Homo sapiens: one gene and its partners. The protein of the gene in region 3 purifies or fractionates together with the protein of the main gene of each other region. This does not show direct contact. Each region holds a gene or a part of one and is shown on either strand. Other genes may lie near its edges.

What was found.
Region 1: the proteins of POMK (region 3) and ZDHHC6 purify together in Homo sapiens (affinity purification with mass spectrometry; 4 studies listed by BioGRID and IntAct, with this or other methods). This does not show direct contact.
Region 2: the proteins of POMK (region 3) and GOLGA5 purify together in Homo sapiens (affinity purification with mass spectrometry; 4 studies listed by BioGRID and IntAct, with this or other methods). This does not show direct contact.
Region 4: the proteins of POMK (region 3) and PIGM purify together in Homo sapiens (affinity purification with mass spectrometry; 3 studies listed by BioGRID and IntAct, with this or other methods). This does not show direct contact.

The regions. Positions count from the first base shown.
Region 1 is NC_000010.11:112,436,915-112,440,414, forward strand, and holds part of ZDHHC6 (palmitoyltransferase ZDHHC6), read right to left. Parts: intron 2,739-3,500; exon of another isoform or gene 2,592-2,738; intron 1,476-2,591; coding exon 1,422-1,475; intron 1-1,421. UniProt on the Homo sapiens protein: Endoplasmic reticulum palmitoyl acyltransferase that mediates palmitoylation of proteins such as AMFR, CALX, ITPR1 and TFRC.
Region 2 is NC_000014.9:92,804,305-92,807,804, forward strand, and holds part of GOLGA5 (golgin subfamily A member 5), read left to right. Parts: intron 1-2,431; coding exon 2,432-2,659; intron 2,660-3,500. UniProt on the Homo sapiens protein: Involved in maintaining Golgi structure. Stimulates the formation of Golgi stacks and ribbons. Involved in intra-Golgi retrograde transport.
Region 3 is NC_000008.11:43,091,629-43,097,129, reverse strand, and holds the start of POMK (protein O-mannose kinase), read right to left. Parts: upstream 3,616-5,501; 5' UTR 3,567-3,615; intron 1-3,566. UniProt on the Homo sapiens protein: Protein O-mannose kinase that specifically mediates phosphorylation at the 6-position of an O-mannose of the trisaccharide (N-acetylgalactosamine (GalNAc)-beta-1,3-N-acetylglucosamine (GlcNAc)-beta-1,4-mannose) to generate phosphorylated O-mannosyl trisaccharide (N-acetylgalactosamine-beta-1,3-N-acetylglucosamine-beta-1,4-(phosphate-6-)mannose).
Region 4 is NC_000001.11:160,024,453-160,028,467, forward strand, and holds the end of PIGM (GPI alpha-1,4-mannosyltransferase I, catalytic subunit), read right to left. Parts: 3' UTR 501-4,015; downstream 1-500.

The DNA.
Region 1 (3,500 bases), on a different chromosome or scaffold from region 3:
AATAGTTGTTAAGCTGTAAGCTAACAAAAGCTGTAGAGCCAGCTTTTTTAATGTAACACTATTCTTATTTGAAAGAATGAGTAATATAGCAAACTAAGGTTATTCAGACTTCAGGACTTGGTGAACATTTTCTCAAAAACGAACAGTCAGGCAGTCACTTCAAGGGAAATGACTGACAGTATGGGTTAATAGTAAAAAATTAAGGCTTTCAAATGTATACTAGAATTACAAAAAAAAAAACCTTGTATCTACCACTGTGAGCCTGACAGCTTTCCAATACTTAAGGATTTTTTCTCATAAAAATGATATATTGATATACGTGAATGCAATTTTGGGATATTGTATAATGAAAGGTGTTTAACGTTTGCAAAATCTACATAACACAGTAAACTAGTATTTGCCAAATGACCGATGCCTGATGTTACATAAAACCACATACTGGTAAAAGATTAATTCAAAGAGCAAGATAGACTGATGAGTTTTAAAATAAAAAGGTATAAAAATCTTATTGATAAGAAATATCACTTGTCAAGTTTTCAATGTAATACGGAAGAACATCCACTATTATCATGTAAAAGGCCTATTAAAATATTCTATCCTTTTCTACCTACTTATCTGTGTGAGGCTAGATCTTCACATACTTCAATCGAAGCAACATATCTCAACAGACTGAATGCAGAAGTGAGAATCCAACCATCTTCTCTTAAGTCAAAGATACTAAAGAGATTTGTAAAGATATAAAACGATGCTATTCTTCTCCCTATTTTGTAATTTGGAAATTGTGAATATTCCCCTGTGGCAACAATCAGCTTGGTCTGCCAGGCAATTCTTTGGTATACAGGCTTGCTCCCCTTCATGGACGTTATCTGCCCAGACCCTGCAGGTATTTGGGTTTCAACCCCTGCCACAGGAATGGTGAGGCTCTGAGAAGTTTTAAACACAGAGCAGGGTAGTCAGATTTGTGTTTCATGCTAGAATCACAATGGACAGTATGAAGTATTGGACATTGTGAGGTCTGTGACAAGCAAAATGTTAGGAGCTTCATTGAATGTCTAAAACACTGAGAAAAACCTGATGGCAGTTTGGTAGGGTGGAAGCTCCTTTCCAAATGGGCTGCTTTCTCCTCTAGTCTAAGAGACAACAAACAGATGGTTTGACGTGTGGCTTAGGCCTCTGCGACCACTCAGGGTGTATGAGAAGCACCTTTCTGTGGGAGTTACAGAATGAACAAAAATGTTTCCTATATTCACCTTTTATGTGGCATGCAAATGACTTACGGTAGCCATTTGGCAGCCATGTTTTCACTTTTAGGCACTTTTCGTTAATCCGGTCTAATAACAGACTTTATTAATATTCAGGACTTTACCAGTCCTTTATTAATATACTTTTTTAATATTGAAGAAACAATTATTAAAATTTACCTTCTCTTCAATCCATGACTCAATAGAAGTTTTGTTTCTGAGAATTATTTTCATCTGGAAATTAAATGATAGTAAAATTTAATAATGCGACCTTGGTTCCTTTAAGATTATCATATTCATAATTCTCTGAGATAGCTTTTATTACTCCATTCCATAGACAAAGATACCAAGGATAACAGAGGTTAAGTACCACAATTACCATGTCATCCGTCTGACTCCAAAGTCCTTGTTCTTAACTACTGCACCACGGTACCTCTCCGTAACAATGATTACACCCATCCATAATCAAATCTGAATCTAGTATGTTAATCAAACTTTATGTCATAAGTACTATTTTCAGAGCAAGGTTTAATAAAACATTGATATAATCCATTTAATCAGTGCTTACTTATAATTTGCTATTAAAATCTTTTATCACTATTTTTAACTAACTTTAAATTTACGATTAATCTATTTATGAGAAGTAACAGTGACTCATTTCAGTCAACCTCAATATTTCACTTGCCTTAAAAATAATGAATGTATTCAGTCTTTATTCTATTATTTGATTTTCCTAGATATGACTGATTCCACATATATAGGCTTTTATATTATAGGATCTTAGTTTATTTCTAATATGATTCTAAATTAGAGGCATTGGGGAAAATTTTTCAAAGAATTTGGTCCCAGGCTAGTAGACGATAATAAAGTATAAACAAAACCAGATTATTTTAAAACCAAGAGTTCCCTTAAAGTCTGGCTGTGCCTTCAGAGAGACAGTGTAGTATGTTAGAAACAGCCTTGGTGGAGGCTGCAATAAGCCGAGATCGTGCCATTGCACTCCAGCCTGGGCCAACAGAGCCAGGCTCTGTCACAAACAAACAAACAAACAAACAACAATAAAAAAATAAACAGCCTTGGCCCAGGAGTCCTCATCATATTCCAAGGGCCTAGCATAATACCTGGCCCACAGTAGGCCTTCAATGAATGAATGAATGAATTACGTGAATGCAATAAGTCATAAGAATGGTTTTTGGGCCGGGCACAGTGGCTCACACCTGTAATCCCAGCACTTTGGGAGGCTGAGGTGGGTGGATCACAAGGTCAGGAGTTCAAGACCAGCCTGGCCAAGATGGTGAAACCCCGTCTCCACTAAAAACACAAAAATTAACCGGGTGTGGTGGCAGGTACCTGTAATCCCAGCTACTTGGCAGGCTGAGGCAGAGAACTGCTTAAACCCGGAAGGCGGAGGTTGCAGTGAGCTGAGTTCACGCCATTGTTCTCTAGCCTGGGTGACAGAGTGAGACTCCGTCTAAAAAAAAAAAAAAAAAAAAAAAAAAAAAAAAAAAAAAAAAGAATGAAAAAGAATGGTTTTTGGTCCCTTCAGAGCCAGGTCCTCCTCCTCTGTGTTCTCATAGCACTGTGCACATAAATCTATGATGTACATATGGCCCTGTATTAGTTAACTGTTTAATATTAACTGTCAGTTCCTAAGGGCAGCTACCTCTTCATTATCATTTATGCAGCCTTAGAAATTAGCAAAGTGATTCATCAGAGTAGGCTTTAAATAGCATCTTTATCATAGGGCTGTTATGGAGATTAAATGAGCTAATACATGTAAAGTGCCTAAAACAGTGCCTTACACATAATAAGTGCTCAATAAATGTTAGCTATATTATGATTACTATTATTAAATATATACTATTATAAAATAACATTAGTGTTTACCAAGTACATGAATGGGTGACATTGGGTAAGTCACTTAACCTTTTTGAGAATCAATGAATTAATCATCTGTCGGGAAGGGAAAATGTTTACCAAGTACATGAATGGGTGACATTGGGTAAGTCACTTAACCTTTTTGAGAATCAATGAATTAATCACGTGTTGGGAAGGGAAAACAGTAAGACTCCTCTATTGGGGTGGATGTGAAGAGCAAGAGAGACTGTACAGGTGAGAAGAGCTCTCTCAATTCTGAAGTGCTCCAGAACTTACCTAACTTGAAGTTAGCATTTTAAAAACTAAATCAATACCTAGAAATTCTGGCAAAATTAAATCAAAATTATCTGACGAATACAAAGGAGATTAGTTACCTAAATG
Region 2 (3,500 bases), on a different chromosome or scaffold from region 3:
GTCCTTTCTCCTCGGCCTCCCAAAGTGCTGGGATTACAGGCGTGAGCCACCACGCCTGGCCTACTTCATTTCTTTTTAAAATCTTTATTTTAGAAATTTCAAACATACCAAAATAGAACGTAATGACCTCCTATTATCCAACTACAGTAATCACTCATGGCCATTCATGTTTCATTTATACCCTCCCATTTCCCATCACTTTCTTCACCTGCACCCTCCGCACAATTAATTTGAAGCAAATCACAGATCTTATATCATTTTTTCTATAAACATTTCATTTTCTTACTCTAAAAATACTCTAAAAGCAAATGTTCACACCATTATCACCTTAAAAATGTAATAATTTCTTTCTTTTTTTTTTTTTTTTTTTGAGACAGGGTCTCACCTTTTGCCCAGGCTGGAGTGCAGTGGTGCAGTCTCAGCTCATTGCAACCTCTGCCTCCCAGGTTCAAGCGATTCTCCTGCCTCAGCCTCCGAAGTAGCTGAGATTACAGGCACCCGCCACCATGCCCAGCTAATTTTTAGTAGAAACAGGGTTTCACTATGTTGGCCAGGCTGGTCTCAAACTCCTGACCTTGTGATCCGCCTGCCTCAGCCTCCCAAAGTGCTGGGATTACAGGCGTGAGCCACCACGCCCTGCCAACACTCCCATTTTTAAGTCACGTCTTAGGTGCCCATTCCCTACCCCACTTGATTATTAGCTTTTTGTGGTTATTTTTTCTTTTAGGTAAAATGTACATATATTAAGATGCACACAAATCTTAGCTATATGACGAATGGCAATACCTGTGTAACCCACACCTTTACCGTGTTATAGATTTCCTTTGCCCCAGAAAGTTCCTCATGTTCCTTTCCACTTAATCTCCTCACCCCGTCCCTGAAAGCACCCAGTGCTCTGATTTTTCTCTCCTTAGTTTTGCTTGTTCTAAAACTTCATATAAATTGAATCATATAGTATATATACTTTCTAATCTGGCTTCTTTTACTGAACTGTTAGTGAGATTCATCCATGTTACTGTTCTTTTTTTATTCTGTTTTATTATGTAGTACTCTATTATACGGCTGTACCACAGTTTATCTATTCTCTTTTATGGACATTGGGTTTGTTTCCAGTTTTGGATTATTGTGAATAAAACTGCTATAAACATTTTTGTACTTGCTTTTTTGTGGGCAAATGTTTTCATTTCTCTTGTATAAATACCTAGGAGTGGAATTGCTGGGTGAAACGGTAGCTGCATGTTTAATTTCATAAGAAATTGTAAAACCTTTTCCCCCAGTGATTGTACCATTTTATAGTCCCACCAGCAGTGAGAGGTCTAGTTGCTCTGCAGTGTCACCAACATTTGGTGTTTTTAATTTTAGCCATTCTAGGGGGTGTCTGTTGGTTCTCATTGTGATTTTAATTTGCATTTCCTTGATGACTAAACATGTTCAGAACTTTTTCATTTGATTATTGATATTTGTTTATATAACCTTATAAAGTATCAAGTCTTTTACCCATATACTGATTGTTTTAGTCAGTTTTATTATTTAGATATATAGTTCATTTTCATCACATAATTTTTAGAGTAATTTAAAAGTATACTTGCATTATATTTAGTAACAAAAACAAGATTAATCTGAATTCATGTGTCTCTATCTCTTTGGGTAAGACATGTTAGATTCCAGTTTGATTAAAAAAAAAAAACAAAAAACCTTGTAGTGACCTGTTATTACTCTTCTTGCCTTGAAACCTGCAGCTACTCTATTGTGCCTTCCCAATTTTTCAGTATTTGAGACTTCTCCTGGTTTTTTTTCCCAAAAGCATTTTGGAGACAAAAGGAAATCCAAACCCATTTTACCTGAACCCAACCACTCACATGATCTCTGATGTTCTCCCCAGAATGGTGTTGTACTGTCTGTTGTCATTCATTCAGTGTATCCAGACTTGAGTATCCTTAGAGGTCCATATGCCCCATTTATGAGAATGAAATTTAATCAGAGGGAAGACTATTGAAAATTTGTTTATTTATGTATTTTTTTTGAGATGGAGTCTCGCTCTGTTGCCCAGGCTGGAGTGCAGTGGTGCAATCTTGGCTCACTGCAACACCTTTGGCCTCCCAGGCTCAAGTGATTCTCCTGCCTCAGCCTCCTGAGTAGCTGGCACTACAGGTGTGTGCCACCACACCTGGCTAATTTTTGTATTTTTGGTAGAGATGGGGTTTCACCGTGTTGGTCAGGCTGGTCTCAAACTCCTGACCTCAAGTGATCTCCCTGCCTCGGCCTCCCAAAATGCTGGGATTACAGGCATGAGCCACCGCGCCTAGCTGAGAATTTACTTTTTATGGTGTTTTAGCTGTAGCAGTCAACTTGAGCATCCTACCAAAGCAAGTTGTTAATGCATATGTGATGAACACGCCAATGTAACAAAAACGTATTCTTTTTTTTACAGAAGCTGCCAGTAACTCAGATTCTAGCCATGAAGGTCAAGAGGAATCTTCAAAGGAAAATGTGTCATCAAATGCTGCCTGCCCTGACCACACCCCAACACCTAATGATGATGGCAAATCACATGAACTGTCTAACCTTCGACTGGAGAATCAGCTGCTGAGGAATGAAGTTCAGTCTTTAAATCAAGAAATGGCCTCGTTACTCCAAAGATCCAAAGAGACTCAAGAAGGTAGAGGCTTAAATTGTTCAGGATTAGGAATTTAACTTTTAAAAATAAACTTAAGGCTGGACGCAGTGGCTCGTGCCTGTAATCCCAGCACTTTGGGAGGCCGAGGCGGGCGGATTGCCTGAGGTCAGGAGTTCAAGACCAGTCTGGCCAACATGGTGAAACCCTGTGTCTACTAAAAATACAAAAAAATTAGTCAGATGTGGTTGCAGGCACCTGTAATCCCAGCCACTCAGGAGGCTGAGGCAGGGGAGTTGCTTGAACCAGGGAGGTGGAGGTTGCAGTGAACCGAGATTGCACTACTGCACTCTAGTCTGGGCAGCAGAGCAAGACTCTATCTCAAAAATAAATAAATAAAAATAAAATAAAATAATAAACTTAAAAACTTTAAACTGTTAGAAATATTTACATTTAAACTGTGAGAAATTAGATGCGACTTGTAAAATGATATTTTCATAGAAAAACTGCCCAGATTTGGAAATGGGACCAGTCATCCTCCCACCAACCCAAAACATAAGAGTATTCGCTTCTTTGGTCATCCTTTAAGAACCATGAAATTGAAGAACTGAGAGGAACAAACTAGTAGTAGTCTAGTTCATTCATTTATTCTGAACTTTCAAGGGAAGCTGTTCCATTAAACAAAGTAGTAGGCACTAATAGAGTTGCAGTGTTGCTGCTCTAGGGCATATAAAAGGTACATGGAATTCAGTTCAGTGCCCTTGGGAATTGTGCAGTGAGGTGGCCCTGGAGTAGAAAACCTCAAGTTCCTCAGAAATAGGTAATTAAGAAGGAAATAATCTCATTATGGAGGTAGTGACTGAGGAAGATGTGAATGTTATTGTAA
Region 3 (5,501 bases):
TCTATCTATCTAATCGATCTTATCTATTTACCTACCTACTTATCTATCTACTTAAGACATGGAGTCTCACTATGTTGCCCAGGCTAGACTCAAGTGATCCTCCTGCCTCCACCTCCCAAGCAGCTGGGACTGACTACAGGGATGGGTTACCAAACTCCGCTTCTCATACATGCTTATTTTCACAAGTATGTGCCCATAAATCATACATATGTTTTCAAGCTTTATACAAACAGTGATGGGCTGGTATTATCCTCCTGCAACCAGTTTTTTTTAAAAGCTCAACATTACATTTCTGAGATTTATCCATGCAGATGCACAAAACTCAGTTCACTATTTTCAACTGGTTTGACTTTTCCACAATTAGTGAGACAAGCTGTGTATACATCTCCCCAGGCATACATGGAAGTTTCTCTGATACATGCAGGGAGAGCTTTCTTTTTTTTCTTTTTTCTTTTTTTGAGAAGGAGTCTCACTCTGTCACCAGGCTGGAGTGCTATAGCACAATCTCAGCTCACTGCAACCTCTGACTCCCTTGTTAAAGGGATTCTCCTGCCTCAGCCTCCTGAGTAGCTGGGATTACAGAGCTGGGATTACAGGCACGTGCCACCATGCCCAGCTAATTTTAGTATTTTAATAGAGACGGAGTTTCACTATGTTGGCCAGATGGTCTCAATCTCCTGACCTCGTGATCCGCCCACCTTGGCTTCCCAAAGTGCTGGGATTACAGGCATGAGCCACCATGTCCGGCCCATGCAGGGAGAGCTTTCTAAAGCACGGATCTGATCCCACCTTGCTTAACATTCAACAGCCCCCCACTCGGCCCACAGGATCAAGTCCAAACTCTTATGTGGCCTCCTGAAATCTAGCCCCTATCTGCTTCCCTAAACCCTCCCTGCACCACACTCTCTGGCCCCTGAGCTTTCCTCAAAGGCTCCCTTTCTGGGATACCCAGGCCCCGGCTTCCTCTAGATTCTGAGCACCAAGAAGCCTGCCTGCCTGTCCTGTTCACCACTGCACCCCAGTGCCTGGCACACAGCGGGTACTCGGCAAAGACGCACCAACTGCCTGGTCACTCTGCACCTCTCCCTCTTCATGGCCTCAGCCGCACAGGCTGCTTTCCCTCTCCTGTGTTCGCTCCACGGAATCCGCTCTTCCTCTCCTCACGGCTCCTGTCTTCTGAGGACCCTCATCTGCCACCTCCTTCTCCAATCCAAGTTTCCCAGCTCAAACCCTGCGATAAATCCTTTCAACCCTCCAACCCTCCTTACCCCTAACCTCCCACCAATCCTTCCTTGCCACTAGTGGATTCAGGTTTTATGGGGCCTGAAGCTTATACAAGTTGGGGCAAGGAGTGGTAATTCCTTAAGAGAAGAATAGTTATGAATGTAAAAGTGCTGAGCCTCTTGCCAGAGTTTTGGCAAGAGGATTTGTGCAAGGTTTTGGAAGGTATTTGTGCAAGTGAAGAGGCTAGAGGCTTCATCATAAACCCAGATCTGCTTGTCATTCACCAGACCCATGTAACTTGCCCTGTCCACTTCTTCATTTCCACTCAAAGGCTGCCAACATCAGCTACAAAACTCTGTGGGACTCTAGAAATGCATATTTTCTAATCTCTCTTGGACCCTCAGCATTACTCAGAAAACCTTTAATGCATTTCTTGCTGAATCCAAATTTCATATGCCCCAAAAACCTTTTATATATCCCTAAGTCCTCACATTCACTTCTGAATCCTCTCTCGGCAAAAACAAACCAAACCAAACCAAAACAAAACAAATAAAAAAAATACCCCAAAATTCATTTGACTTTTATACACTGTCAACTTCACACCAATTCTGTGAAGTGGATGTAATTGTTGTTATTCCCATTTCACAGATAAGACAACTGAGTCAGAGGTGAAGTAATATATCTAAGGTCACTGAACTATACACAGAAGAGCCAAGTTTTCTGGCCTCAAGCCCATTCTTCCCCTAAATACCGCAATGCTCGGGAGTTGAACTAAATCAAACCCAGCGTGGTCAGCTAGGGGCTGGGCTGGGGTACCCTGGGACTGCCGGTTTCTTAAAGAAGACTTCAGCCCACCTCAACCCCGATTTGCTTTTTTGTTTCACAGGCATATTCTGGAGTAGGCCGCCCAGAGCATAGCATGAGGCTGTGTGGCTAAAGGAACTTTCGTGTCCAGAAGTAAGCAAAAACCACTGAAATTTACTGGTCCTGAAAACAGCCTGCACATTAAGGAATAAAGATGGTGGGGCAGGTTGGGCAGAAGAAATTCAGGCACGACTGAAATGCAAAGCATTTCTGACACTGATAGGAAGGCTTATTGATAGAGAAAGGCTTGGGACCCACTGCTCCACATTTACAGCTTAAAAAGAAAAGAAAAGCAAAGGGACAAAACTAGTTTTTACCGACTTACAAGATATTTTCTACAACTAGGGAAGACACAGAGTAATGTCATCCAATACAGTTTAGAGTAGAATTCCATTGCGCCAATAAAGCACAAGGTACATTAAGAGGATTATTTTAAATATTCTGAACGCTTATTTAGCCTTAAGGTTCTATAGCAAAGGCAAAGGGTGGCAAAGACAAGATTATGCAACAAAACAGCGAAATTTTGCTTTCTAAAAAAAAGAGAATATGATTACACTTAACACCTCCTGGCAACAATGATCTCGTGCAGAATAAACACCCAAAGGCAAAGAGCTGAGACAGAGTCCTCGGTCCTTTCTGGTTTTTTTGTTTTTTGTTTTGTTTTGGTTTGGTTTGGTTTTTGTTTTTTTAAACAGAGACAGCCTCTGCCGGACCCAGTAGCTCACGCCTGTAATCCCAGCACTTTGGGAGGCAGAGGCGGGCGGATCACCTGAGGTCAGGCGTTCGAGACCAGCCTGACCAACATGGGGAAACCCCGTTTCTACTAAAAATACAAAAATTAGCCGGGCGTGGTGGCGGACGCCTGTAATCCCAGGAGCCAAGACCGCGCCACTACACTCCAGCCTGGGCGACAGAGCGAGACTCCGTCTCAAATAATAATAATAATGATAAAGTAATAATAATAGAAACAGCCTCTCACTCTGGCCCCCAGGCTGAAGTGCAGTGGCGCGATTTCGGCTCACTGAAACCTCCGCCCCCGCCGGGTTCAAGCATTCTCCCGCCTCAGCCTCCGGAGTAGATAAGACTATAGGCGGCGCCACCGCGCCCGGCTAAGTGCTTTTTTACGGAGACAGAAGTTCCGCCATGTTGCCCAGGCTGCTCTCGCCTGAGCTCACGCGATCCTCCCGCCTCGGCCTCCCAAAGCGCTGGGATTACAGGCTGGAGCCACCTCGCCGGGCCCTTCTCTGGTTCTTTAACGTCCCGCTACCGCGCAGGGGTGGACGCGGAGATAGGGGCTGGGCGCGGTGGACACGGCCGCTCAGGCCCAGCGCAGCCTCCTAGGGAGCCTCCGGACAGGCCGCGGGCAGGCGGCCGGGGCTGCGGGGGGTGCGGCCCAGGCCACGTACAGGGTCCCCCGGGAAACCCAGCTGCACGCCCCCTCGCCCCTTCGCCCTCTCACCCCTCGCCGCAGCACCTACCTGCAGCCCAAGCCTCTGCGGCTCCTGCCACCCCGGGCCAGCACGCACTGGGCCTACTGCGCTTGCGCGTTCGGAAGCGCGTCCTGGGCGGGTGAGCGTGGCGCTGCTGCCCCCTGGCGTCCTCCTCCGGCCGTGCACTGAAGCCGGAGCGAACGCCGCGGCGGTACCAGCGCGCACCTACCCAGTCTCCCTGTCTGGCTTCTGCTTCCCTAACTTGGGAGAACGATTTTGTGTTGACCGACTATTGCTTCAGCCTGGAGCCAGGCTCATGCAGAGCAGCTGTCAGATCTAGACGCACTGCGAGGCCTTCCAAAGCGTAGTCCTCAGACCCGCGGCATCTGCAGGGACCTTGCTGGAAAGGCTGATTCCCAGCTCCGGCCCAGACCCGCCACTCGGGGACCCAGATGCCTGAAGTTGGACAATCGCTCTGTAAAAGAAACTGTGGGGCTTAGCCTAGACGCAGTAAAGCTGAGCTGCACACATCAAGCGCAGCAGACAAGACCTTGGCAAGCCTCCGCGGAGGGGCAGGACTGGGCAAAGGCGGGGAAGTCCGTCGAGGGCCGGCCAGGAGCCCTGCCGGGAGCCCAACACGCACTCGGGCGCTTGCTCCGGGAAACCGAAAGGGAGGCTTGCAGCATCGAAGTCAGCTGGGTCATGGAACGTCTAGGTTGTGTACATCGGAAGCGTTAGCTGCTTCTACACTGACACACTGCGAAAGTCCAGAATCAAGACAGTAACATGGTGTGGGTTAAAAAAACTGAGCCGGTACTAGCTATCCAAACAGTATTAAAATTAACAGAAACGTTTGCCTATCACATGGACAAACAGCGGTAATACCTCCTGTCGTTACAGTAGAGTCTGAAAGTTTCCTCACACATACAAGTGAGTGTAAATTGGAATTCCTCCTACGTGCCCTAGCAAATCCATTTCTAGGAATTTATCCTTCAGAAATAACGTCTGTGGCCGGGCGCCGTGGCTCATGCCTGTAATCCCAGGACTTTGGGAGGCCGAGGTGGGCGGATCACGAGGTCAGGAGACCGAGACCATCCTGGATAACACGGTGAAACCCCGTCTCTACTAAAAATACAAAAAATTAGCCGGGCATGGTGGCGGGCGTGAGAATGGCGTGAACCCGGGAGGCGGAGCTTGCAGTGAGCCGAGATCGCGCCACTGTACTCCAGCCTGGGTGACAGAGCGAGACTCCGTCTCAAAAAAAAAAAAAAAAAAAAAGAAAAAGAAATAATATGTCTGCAAGATGTATGCACAAGAGATCTTGCTGAAGCATTGCTGATAAAAGATATTTATAATAGAGAAAAAAAGAAACCTGAATGTATAACAATAGGGGTTTCTGAAAGAAATTATATTACATCCACATAGCCATGAAAAATACTAACGGGTGCACAGTTTCAGTGTGAGAAGATGGTAAAGTCCTGGAGATGGATGGGGGTGATGGTTGCACAACAGTGTGAATATACACCAATAAATTGGGTGGAGGCCGAGAGCTCGGGGCCGTGAGCAAGCCTCCAACGCTCCGGTCCCCCGGACCCGCCTTTTAAACTCTTATTCTAATTCCTTTGTCTTCGCTGGACTCGGGGTACCCGCCGGGTGGTGTGGGGCTGGTTTCCCCAACAACTTCACTCTAGCCTGGGCAAAAGAGCAAAGCTCCGTCTCAAACAAACAAAGATAGAAACCAACCAGCAGCTCTCCTTGCTGAGTTCTTTGCCACGTGGCCACCATTTTGTGCCCACAGGCTTTTTGGGGGTGCTGGGAAAAGGTGAAATTTTAACACTGATGAAAAATTAGAGGAATTAAATTCAAACAAAAAATTAAAAATAAAAAGAACAGCAGAATTTGACGCACCATCAAACTGGTTGTGTCACCCATCTTCAAGCTGAAGGTAGTCCAAAGCCTGGAACTGAGTGTCGGGGGCACACA
Region 4 (4,015 bases), on a different chromosome or scaffold from region 3:
ACACAGGGCCTGGATCTATAAATAACTGCCAAAAAAAATGAAGAGCAAAGGTTATACATTTCCTTTGTAAAAAGAACTGAGCTTCAAATATTCATGCTCCAAATTATTTTTAAATAGTCACTGTAAGTGTCATTTCACTTTGTCTAGCAGACATAGCAATTAGCAGAGTGCCTGAGCAGCTATAAATGTTCTCATTTAGTCTGGTTTTTGTTCAGGATAATGAATATAAATGCTTGTTTTGACTAAATGAATGGTTCTCCTAGGCCAGTGCTGAATAAATGCTTGTGCTATTGTGACGCTTCTGACCCAGGCAGGAGACATGTGCTTCCATCTCCAGAACAGCAACCCCTGAATGACCCCTCGATACAATGGAGAAAAGAAGTGCTGTGTAATTTAGGGGCATAAACCAAACCTCCACTGCTTAGAGTCAGCTTAATGTCTGACAGAAATATACAAAACTGTAAAGCCTCAACCAGACATCTGAATAATCTGTCCATACATTTTTCACATATCAGTATTTATTATCTTTTCAAAGGAACAGGTCAAGATGAGAATAAAGTTTATGATCAAAGGTAGTCAAACATTTATTTTATATAAATATAATTTCCTTGCCTATATCCATTAGATTTGGGGAAAAAAGGTTCAAGTTTACAGTGCCAGAACAGCTCCTTCTTTAAAGGCTTGTAAACAGTGACTTGTTCTATGCCAGCATGCACACTTTGAGCATATCAACTCACTTAATCCTTACCAACAATTCTATGAAGATTGTGCTATCATTCCCATTTCACAGATAAAAACTAATGTATCTAGATATGATAATCTTGCTCAGGATCATGCACTGGGATTTGAACCTAAGTGATCTATTCTCTGATGCCGTACTATCAATGCAGTACAATTTTTAACTGCATGAATGCACACTGCAGAGCAACAGCAATTGAACAATGATCATTTGCCTTTTGGAAATTATGGCCACATACTTTGTGTAGCTTGATTTACAAATAGCTTGGCTAAAAAGCAGTTCAGCAAATCAACTTCTTAAAATAGGCTATGAAGGAAAAGTGCATGATGAAGCCAGCAGTAAACAAAGAAATTACACAATTTGGTGAGAGAGGGTTTGGAGGTGGAGGGGAGTTGTTAAAGGCCTGGAATCATTGAAAAGTTTGGGGATGACAGTGACTTGGTACAACTGAGAGAACTGCCCCTCAAAAGATTAGAAGGACAATTGATTGGCAAGAGACACTTGACAGAGCCAGTATTGAGTTCCATTTATTTTGGAGCAGTATGCATCTGCTGGGTTTGGGTACTCTGGAAAAATCCAAAACATAATATAATGGAAAAAGCATGGGTAAAAATCACTTATTAGCAAGTTGTTTAATCTTTGAGCCTCTTCGTTCATCTATAAATTTAGAATATGAATATCAACTTTGAAGTGTTGCTGTGAAAATTAAATAAAACCATATATGGCGGAATAGGTGCCCAAAATTGGTTAATCATGAAAAATTTACCATCATCAAGATGTAAAATAATTAGCTGTTGTTGTTGGGGCAGGGCTTGGAGTTGGGGGTTGGATATTAAGATTCCAAACCTGTATAATCTTTTATCTGGAAAACCTACCAGATAAAACAAAGAGATTACCACCCCCATGTTTTTAGGGAGAGAGACAGAAAGTATGACACACAAAAGAATTAATTTGTTCAACTTTGATGGAAGGTAAACCCCTTTAGTTCTCACTTTGTTTTTAAGACTAGGAAAAGATTCAAACTTCTTAATTATGGATTATCCACCATGTTCTTTCCTTCCTCGGAATCTTTGAGATCCAAGAACGTCTGTTCTTTAAGATGTAACAAAAAACACCTGAAGAAATTTGAAAATGACAGAATGTTAAATCATAATAGATAGCAGAATTATGGTTTTGTAAGAAAATACCTGATTTTTAGGAGATGCATGCTGATATATTTAGTGGTGAAGTTCAATGATGTTTGCAACTTCACATGGTTCAAAAAATTTTATAAATATATAATTATACATATACATAAAGCAAATATGGCAAATTGTTGTTGAATTTAGATGATGGCAATATGAGTAGTGTTTAAAATAGTTAGGTCAGGCGGGGTGCAGTGGCTCACGCCTGGAATCCCAACACTTTGGGAAGCCAATGAGGGAAGATCACTTAAGTGATCTCCCTCTTGCAACATAGCAAGACCTCGTCTCTACAAAAAATAAAGATTAGCCAGGCATGGTGGCAAATACCTGTGGTCCCAGCTACTTGGGAGGCTGAGGAGGAAGGATCACTTGAGCCTGGGAGTTCGGCTGCAGTGAGCCATGTTTATACTACTGCACTCCAGCCTGGGTGACAAAGCAACATCTTGTCTCAGAAAAATAAAAAAATAAAATAGTTGGAGCTGTTTGTTTTAGAGGCAAGGTGTTGCTCTGTCACCCAGGCTGGAGTGCAGTGGCACAATCATAGTTCACTATAACCTCCTCGAATTCCTGGGCTCAAGTGGTCCTCCCACTTCAGCTTCCCAAGTAGCACTTTTTTTTTTGTACAGATGGGGGTCTCACTATGTTGTCCAGGCTGGTCTCAAACTCCTGTCCTCAAGTGATCCTCCTGCCTCAGCTTCCCAAAGCATTGGGATTATAGGCATGAACCACCATGCCCAGCTCTTAAAATCGTTTATAATAAAACATGAGGGGTGGGGGGAACCAAGAGGTTGCATTTAGGGACAATCCTAGGTATAATTTTTCCATCTTTTTCCTTTTCCATTCATAGTACAGATGGTTAGGGGAGAGGGTGGTAATGCAGAAAACAACTGATATTAGAGAAGTAACAGTAAATTCAGCCACAAGTCAACTGAAAGACAAGTTCTACACAACTTCTGAAACATCTTGTAAGAGTCCAGATGGTGAGAAGTCAGTAACTAAAATCAGTGGTTTTAGGAATTCTTTTGCCAGGAAGGAACAAAGCACTGGGTGGGAGTATTAGCCTTTCCAATGGGCCTATCAAGAGAATTTATCCAGGAATATTTAGGAACCACATTCTAAAGACGTTACAAAGGCAATTACAGAAGAAAATGTCATGTAGTTCCCTCTGTTCAGAACACACACAATCTTGAGAATCATCCCTCTTTATCTAATAATTAATGCTTACCTGCAAATGAACATATCAATCTTAAGAGGTGGTATAAGAAAAAAAGAATTATATAGGAAATAAGCCAAAGTCTTATAAAATTTGAAGGTGTTATTAAAGGATTAAAAAGGAAACAAAAGGATTGTGATAAGAAGCAAAAAAAAAACATTTTTTTTACATAACCAGAAAACAAATTAAAAAATTAAAATCCCCCAAGAAACCAAATTAACTCATTTTTTTAGTTAACTTACTAAATGTTTTGGAACATACAAAGTGCAAAATATCTTTTGCATCCCTTTAAGAAACACCTGCCTTTCTTTGGTAAAGAATTTCTTGCAGGAAAGATTCCAAAGTTTGAAGTTCCCTCCAACGATCCCAGCAGAAATGTTTCTAACTTCTAAGAATGTCCTAAGAGAATGAGCTAAAACACAGAAAATGTTGAAAGTCTTATTTAGAATATTAAAAACTGGAAGCAATCTAAAGGTCTAACAGTGGAAGAATGATGTATTTATAATGTGAATATACATGTGATGTCCAACAATTTCAATTCTAAGTATGAAGAGTAAGCCACAATAAAGAATGTTAAAAAACAATAATTAGTAAGTAAATATAATTATAAAACCAAGTCAGAAATACAAAAAAAGGGACAACTATACTGGAATGATGAAATTCGATTTCTGTTTCCTGCCTCCTCCCTTGCTGGCTCTATAATTTTTTTTTTTAATTCTTAGAATAGGAAAAAAAGGTAAGAATGCTATGGCTGGAAGGCCACTAGTAAACAAGCACATATAAAGGGTCCTCAAGACAAGACCTAATATGGGTATGAAACTAAATGTTATAAGGAAGGTCATTGTCCTCAGCAACTGACTCTGCTATTTTTACCCCAAA